2 linked regions of the Homo sapiens genome follow. The protein of the gene in region 2 purifies or fractionates together with the protein of the main gene of each other region. This does not show direct contact. Each region holds a gene or a part of one and is shown on either strand. Other genes may lie near its edges.

Region 1 (3,612 bases), on a different chromosome or scaffold from region 2:
AGGAGTTGACGACCAGCCTGGGCATCATAAGGAGACCCTGTCTCTACAAAAAAATCTTAAAAATTAGCCGGGCATGGTGGCACACACCTGTGGTCCCAGGTACTACGAAGGCTGAGGTGGGTGGATTGCTTGGGCCTGGGAGGTTGAGGCTACAGTAAGCCATGATTGTGACGCCGCACTCCAGCCTGGGCAACAGAGTGAGACTCTGACTCAAAAATAAATAAATAAATTTGTATGCCTTTTCTCCTATTAATCTGCCTCTTGTCAGCTGATTTCCAGCAAACTTTCAGAGGGCAAAGGGTAAGTTTTCCCTTGACCCCTCCAAACCAGTGAACAAAGAAAGCAAGCTTAAGAAGAGGTTTACCTGTGTGAATTGGTCACCCAAGGGGATAGAGCCTCAAGCCAACACAGCCCTGGGTGTGCCACTCTTTCTAAAAGCCTGTGCCCTGAGGCAGTGATTAAATGACTCCTACCCTGGCTTTTGGTTTTGTTTTAGTAAAAATGAGGCCTTTCTACTTTTTCAGAGAAGGGAAGTGTCACAGTTTGAAAAGCTAGTAAAAGTTATGGACTCTTTCCCTAGAGCAGGGCCAAAATACACATATACAATTTTTTAAACATCATTTCAGGGGCTTCACAGTTCTCCTAAACGTACATCCAGGGATTCCAGGTTAAAAGCCCCATTCTGACAGAAAAAAGATAACAAAGGAAGTATTGTAATGTGAGAATTGTAGAAACTAGGTGGCGGATATATAGGGGTTCACTGTACAATTCCTCCAACTTTTCTGTATGTTTAAAACTTTTCTGGCCAGGTGCAGTGGCTCATGCCTGTAATCCCAGCACCTTGGGAGACCGAGGCGGGCAGATCACTTGAGCTCAGGAGTTTGAGACCAGCCTGAGCAATATGGTGAGACCCCGTTTCTACAAAAAATTAGCCGGGCATGGTGGTTCACGCCTGTGGTCCCAGCCACTTGGACACTGAGGTGGAATGATCACCTGAGCCCAGGGGGCAGAAGTTGCAGTGGCCCGAGATTGCACCGCTGTACTCCACCCTGGGTGACAGAGCGAGACCGTGTCTGAAACAAACAAACAAACAAAAAAGGCCAGGCACAGTGGCTCACGCCTGTAATCCCAGCACTGTGGGAGGCCAAGGCAGGTAGATCACTTAAGGTCAGGAGTTTGAGACCAGCCTGGTCAACATGGTGAAACCCTGTCTCTACTAAAAATACAAAAATTAGCTGGGTGTGGTGGCTCATGCCTGTAGTCCCAGCTACTTGAGAGGCTGAGGCAGGAGAATCGCTTGAATCCAGGAGGTGGAGGTTGCAGTGAGCCAAGATTGTGCCACTGCACTCCAGCCTGAGCAACAGAGCAAGACTCTGTCTCAAAAAGAAAAAAAAAGTTGGGAGGAAAACAAAACCCCTGTTTTTAATAAGGGCAAATGATGCCAAGCGCTAAAAATATAACTTTTGTGTTATAAGCACAGTTCTATTCTCATCATTTTTCCAATTCGTGATATTAATAAAACTAATTTCCTCCTGTGGATAATGGGAAGATATGGATATTTTACAGGGAGACATTCCCATATTGTGAGCTTTTAGACTATTACTACTAAAGACTATTAATATTTCTGTTACATGTAATATTTTTATAATTGTGAGTGAACTAATTCTCTGTTCCTCAGTCAAGAGGACATCTACAGCTAACTGAGCTATTTCTTTACTTTCTTAGGTAGCTTCATTTTACCCCAAAGTATTTTGAGGGGTCCACAATACAAGCTCTATTAACTGCCATTTATATTTATTTCCTTTGGATTTTTCTGAGCCCACTTCACACTGGCACTGTGATGGCCCCAGTTAAATACCTCCCCACGGCCTCTGCCGTTCTGCCTACAAACCAAGCCAGCCACACATCCCTCCCTAGAGTCACTGGGACACACAGGTGAGTCGCCACATCTGCACTGTGGGAATTACTAAAGAAATGACGCCTGTAATCTCAGCTACTCGGGAGGCTGAGGCAGGAGAATAACCTGAAGCCGGGAGGCGGAGGTTGCAGTGAGTCGAGATCACACCACTGCACTCCAGCCTGGGCAACAGAGCAAGACTCCATCTCAAAAAAAAAAAGAAGAAATGACTCTTCTGTCATCAGATGGGACTGCAGATGGCAGATGTGCCCTACTGACAATTGACCAAGACCATGCATGACCACCTACTAGATTTTCAATCAGCTTTTAATTCCAACCACCAATCTAGGTTCTTTTCTTTTTTTTTTGAGACGGAGTCTCGCTCTGTCGCCCAGGCTGGAGTGCAGTGGTGCGGTCTCGACTCACTGCAAGCTCTGCCTCCTGGATTCAAGTGATTCTCCTGCCTCAGTCTCCCTAGTAGCTGGGACTACAGGCGCCTGCCACCACGCCCGGCTAATTTTTTTGTATTTTTAATAGACACGGGGTTTCACCATGTTAGCCAGGATGGTCTTGATCTCCTGATCTCGTGATCTGCCCACCTCAGCCTCCCAAAGTGTTGGGATTACAGGTGTGAGCCACTGTGCCCAGCCCAATCTAGGTTCTTGTTTATGAAATGCAGAGATAACTTTGTAATCTCTTTTTGAGGATAATACCTAGAAATAAGAAAGACCTGTCAAGAAATCAGTTCCCTGAATAATCATTATATTCAGGATTAAGGCAAACCCAAAATGTACCTGAGCATTTATAAGAACCTTTCATAAATTAAGGCTCCCAGCTACCAATCCTGTTACCTCCCAGCTGGCTCTGAGCCACTTCCCAGCCCACAAACACGGAAATATCTTGGCTGTGGGTCAGCAGGGCAGACCACAATACTCTTCTGAGACCCAGAGAGTTTATGAGATGGTGGGACACCCTAAGAAAACCTAACTTGTCCTGGTCCAAAGCAATGGCTGCCCAATTAGGCAAAGGCTGTGAAAGTGAGCTCAGCTCAAGGCGAGCGACTGAAAGGAATGTTGTGTGTCTACATGCACGCATGGGCTGGAGGTGGTGGGGGCCACTTACGGTTCAACCCAGTGAAGCTGAACATGCCAATTTGATCAGTGATGTGGTTCCAGGTCCCAGGGGTTTTGAGGGCTTCTAGTCGTGCCCTGAGTTCAGATCTCATGGTCAGAATCCGGTCAGCCATTGTCTTCACATTACCTGTCCTGAAGCATGGACAGTGACGTAAATACCAATCCAGACAGGAAAGATGGTACCCGAAAACACACAGGTTTAAAAACTCTAATTTAAACGACAGCTGACAATGGGATCATAACCTGCCTATTATGGCATGTGGATGTCTGGATGGGTGGATTAACATACCAGAGAGAGAGACTTAGGGGGCAGAAGGAAAGGACTGCATTTACTAGTGAGTCTAGTGCTAGTCTTGGGTATACTGGCTAGAATACACTCACATTTCAACTCAGGCTTCACCGAGGTGCTGCTATAGATATTAATAGGGCAATATGTTTCATCAGGACTTACTAAATAAAGATTGCAGATTTAGCTACTATATAAAAATTACTGTTCTAAAATAAGATAAAGTGTATGTAAATTACAGATAAAAACCAAGAGCTCCCAAACTGTTAAACTGCCTAGACGTTCGATATTCTATT
Region 2 (4,120 bases):
TACTTGGAGCATTATTAGCAATTATGTTAAGTAGAGCTTTCCTTATTATTTTTGTAATGGTGCCATATTTCAGCCACATGCTCATGGCAAGGCCCTCAATTTCCCTGGACTATTTTCCACATGGCCCCAGGGAGAGGGACCAGTCCAGCACTTAGGTCACTGCATGAATATATTGGGAGGCAGCAAGATACTCTTAGGTGGAAAGTCCAATAACAAATTCTCCCTGCCCATTCCAGGCTAAGATTATACTAAGATTTTCCCTGCATGGAGACTATCCTCCAAACCCAACTGACCTTAAAACAGCATAGTTAACCCAAAGTCAGTAGTGTTGGCTTTCCCCAGTTCTTGGGTAAGGATGAGAGGACAGCCTCCTTCAGAGCTGACAGCGATGAACCAGCCAGGGAAAGCCACAGACTCGAAGGTGGAGTTCCTGCCACTCTGGCTGTGGTAGAAGAGAAAGGACTTCACAGGCTCGGGTTGGTTGTACAAATCCATTATATCCTTTTCCTGAAGGGTGCGAAGGAGACACCAGCAAGAAACATAACTGTTTGAATGTTTCACATTCTTTACACACTGATATTCCACGTCCAAGGATAGCATTCCCTACTCATTGAAGCAGCTTGGAGACCTCTGTTTCATATTATGGGATTGAAAATCATATAAATTAAATTCTTTTAAGATTATGGTTGAAACTCAGGCTACAAATTTTAATGGTTTTTAATGTGAGGCTCTGAAAAATGTGTTGACATGAAAGTTTTTGAGAATACAAAGCATTGATTGGGCCATTATTTGTTGTTCAGAAACAGAAACTTAAAGAATATTTATGTAACAGTTACTGTAAATTTCAAATTAAAACAGTTATTTTCTGTCAGGTTTCTGCACCTTCAGCACTATTGACATTTTAGGCAAGATGATTCTTTGTTTTCAGGGTCTGTCCTGTATAATAATATAGGATGTTTAGTAGCATCCCTGTCATCTACCCGATAAATGCAAGTATCACACCCCCATCCCAGGTTGTCACAACCAAAACATCTCCAGACATTGACAAATGTCCCTGGAGCAATATCACCCCTGGCTGAAAAACACTGTTTTATATCTTGTCATCAAGTTGAGTGTCTGCTTATGCTTGTTTACTGAAAAGGGTCAAGAGAGTTCCTGTAGTACACAGAGGCCTGCTATAATTATCTTTTTTTAATAATGGAAAATTGCGATTATTGAAGTGTTTATTACAGAGAATTATGTTTGTTCATTTAAAGTTGCAATGTATTTTTTGCCAAAAAGATGTTTTAATAAGTTCGTCTACTTTGTGATAATTAACTGCTAAAATGTCCTTGCTGATTTTACTCTGTGTGTGTGTTCTATTGAAGTTAGACATCATCCTTGCCAAATTATTAATATTTTTGTAAATTAAAATAATAAGTCATTTTAGTAGGTTTGTTTCAAAATGTCCCTGCAATTTTTCTTAGTCTTTCATAACATATACCAACCCCAAGGAAACCAAAAATAAAAATGCATGAGCATAATAAGTACATTGTCTTTTAAAAGATCCTGAAATCTGAGTTTCCATCAAATAAATGGCAGGACCTGTCTTCCACACTCACCTTCAGCTGCAGTGTGGGCTGGTCCCCGACTTTAGCACACATCAGGCAGAGATTGAGTCCATTCAGGCCCAGGTAGATGGGGTTCCCTCTGTCTTTCTCAAGGGTCTCCACATGTCGGCATGAGATTAAGGCAATAGTGACTGGGAACACGATGTGAAAAGTGGTGTTCAGCTGCCATTTCCAGGGTGGTACCTCTGAGCCAGAGTTTTAAGGGAATCTGCTAACTGACACTCACAGTGCACTCATAGAATGGTCACCTCACCACCCACCACCTAACCGGGACACCCATCCTATGTTTGGGGAACACTTTCCATTAGAAAAGTCAGTCTTTCATGGATTCAAAAACTGGTCCTCCCATAGATTACCCTCTTTTGTCCTACTCTTACTCCTTGAAGTTTCTCAGAATACGTCTTCCACTGTTTTTCATAGGCTGACCCTTCAGTCTCCCTTAAGCCTTCTCTCTCTTCTCTGACTTCATGACCATAGTCCCAGAACAACCTTATGCTCACCCTCTATTCATTATTGTCTGTGAGATGCTCCTCTCTGTAGATATGCCCGGTTAACAAGCCCACTGTGGAATAACATCTGAGCACCAAACACACAACAGCACTGGCCAAAGGAGCTGCCTTTCACAGACCGTGGCTACTCACCTGGAGACATACGGTCCTTCCTCGGGACTGCTATGAGCGTCTGGTCCTGAAGAACCCACACCCGATGATTGATATCCTGAATGCTCCCCTGCTGAGGTGTGTCAATTTTCAATGCTGTTGAGAAAGTCAAAATGTAAATTAGTAAGAATGAGAGCACAGAATATCACCCCCTTGTCAATTTTTCGCCCTTCCACGAGGATCTTTACCTTTTTCCATTGTGGTGGTGTTGTTTCAGAACTGCCAAGGATAGGAGTCCTTTTATGTGCAGACCGACCCCAAGAGAGGACCTGAGTCAGTCCCAAGCCACAGTTTAACCCTGGGTCAGATGAAAGACTGGCGGCCAGCCCAGCAGTGACCCCAGTCAGAATCTATACTCCCAGAACTCACCCAGCACCCTTACTTTGTTGGATGCAGTCTACCTCCAGCAGAAGCAGCTGCACCTATGAATCCTGCCCAGGCCTAGACCCAGGAACTCTAATATGACAAAGAGTGCCAAGGCCAAAGACCTGGAAGCAAAAAAAATCAGAGGTCACCAGACTTTCCAGCATAGGCCACACTGATAATCTGTTACGAAGGACCCTGTATCCCTACCATTATGAACAATGGCTTCTACTGCACTTGGGTTTTCTGACAGGCTGTAACAGGGCCCAGGCCTTTTATCCACATGGGCAAGGAAGGAAGTTCTGCCTCACTAAGTCTGGCACTGCCCAACACTCAGGATATTTTCTAGTTCCTGATGCCAGAGGATTTAGTGACTCTTTATGTGAACAGCATGGTTAAGACTTCTCCAAGCAACCTGAAACATGAGGGCATGCTAAACTTTTAAGAGCAGGAAATATAGTCACAGATACTGAGTTGAGAAACATTACGGGACTTCTTCCGGGTCAATGACTCATCTCTGATGCCACAAAATGAAACGATGGAATTATTCCTAAGAGTGGGAGCCCTCAGTAAGTGCAAGGTAGACTGAGGAGGGATAGGTCTCTTAAGACCTCTGTAGCTTCTAATCACTCCTGGTCCACAGGAACTATATTCTTGGTCAATTTCAGACCAGAAGCCCACTCACTCCAGTGACCCTCCTCCAGCTTCTCAGAGCCACTGTGCATGCTGCTTCTCCATGGAAGAAGGGAGTATTACTGTAGCAAAGCCAGCTCCTGAGCACTCTAGCCACCTCAATGGACTCTAGATCACTATCTCTAGTATAGGTAGCGTGATAGTAAATTTTAAGTGTCAATTTGACTGGTTTAAGGAATACTTAAAGAACTGGTAATACATTAGTTTGGGGTAAGTCTATGAGGGTGTTTCCAAAGAAGATTGGTGTGTAAGTCAGTGTACTAGTGGGGAACATCTACCCTCAACGTAGGTGGGATCCATCCAACTGGCCGGGGGCATGGATGGCATGGAAAAGACAGAGAAAAGGTGATTTTCTGTCTCTCCTGGAGCTGGGGCATTCTCTCCTGCCTTTGGACATTATAACTCCAGACTTTGGACTCCAGGACTTAATATCAGCATCTCCCTGGGTTCTCAGGCTTTCTATCCCAAAGTGAGAATTACACCAGTGGCTTCCTAGTTCTGAGGCTTTAGGACTTGAACTGAGCATGTTACCTGCATCCCAGGGTCTCCAGCTTGCAGGTGGTCTGTCATGGGATTTCTCAGCCTCCAAAATTGCATGAGTTCATTCCCCTAATAAATCCCCTTTCATACAAGAGGTCATCAAAAAGTTCATGGAAAATGCATATTATGAAAAAAACTATGCATGGATTTTGAATTATTTTGCACCAAAATAAACTCCTACTAACTTGTTATAAGGTGTTTGAACAGGATCTAGTTTGAGGCACTAAGAAAGGTAAGACATCAGTTTGAAAAGAG

Evidence for each region. Proteins that work in one complex are often made in the same cells at the same time.
Region 1: the proteins of IL36A (region 2) and GOT1 purify together in Homo sapiens (affinity purification with mass spectrometry; one large-scale study listed by BioGRID and IntAct). This does not show direct contact.

Annotation. Positions count from the first base shown.
Region 1 is NC_000010.11:99,399,561-99,403,172, forward strand, and holds part of GOT1 (aspartate aminotransferase, cytoplasmic), read right to left. Parts: intron 3,163-3,612; coding exon 3,020-3,162; intron 1-3,019. UniProt on the Homo sapiens protein: Biosynthesis of L-glutamate from L-aspartate or L-cysteine. Important regulator of levels of glutamate, the major excitatory neurotransmitter of the vertebrate central nervous system. Acts as a scavenger of glutamate in brain neuroprotection.
Region 2 is NC_000002.12:113,004,219-113,008,338, reverse strand, and holds IL36A (interleukin-36 alpha), read right to left. Parts: upstream 2,881-4,120; 5' UTR 2,468-2,880; coding exon 2,458-2,467; intron 2,366-2,457; coding exon 2,252-2,365; intron 1,742-2,251; coding exon 1,602-1,741; intron 508-1,601; coding exon 295-507; downstream 1-294. UniProt on the Homo sapiens protein: Cytokine that binds to and signals through the IL1RL2/IL-36R receptor which in turn activates NF-kappa-B and MAPK signaling pathways in target cells linked to a pro-inflammatory response.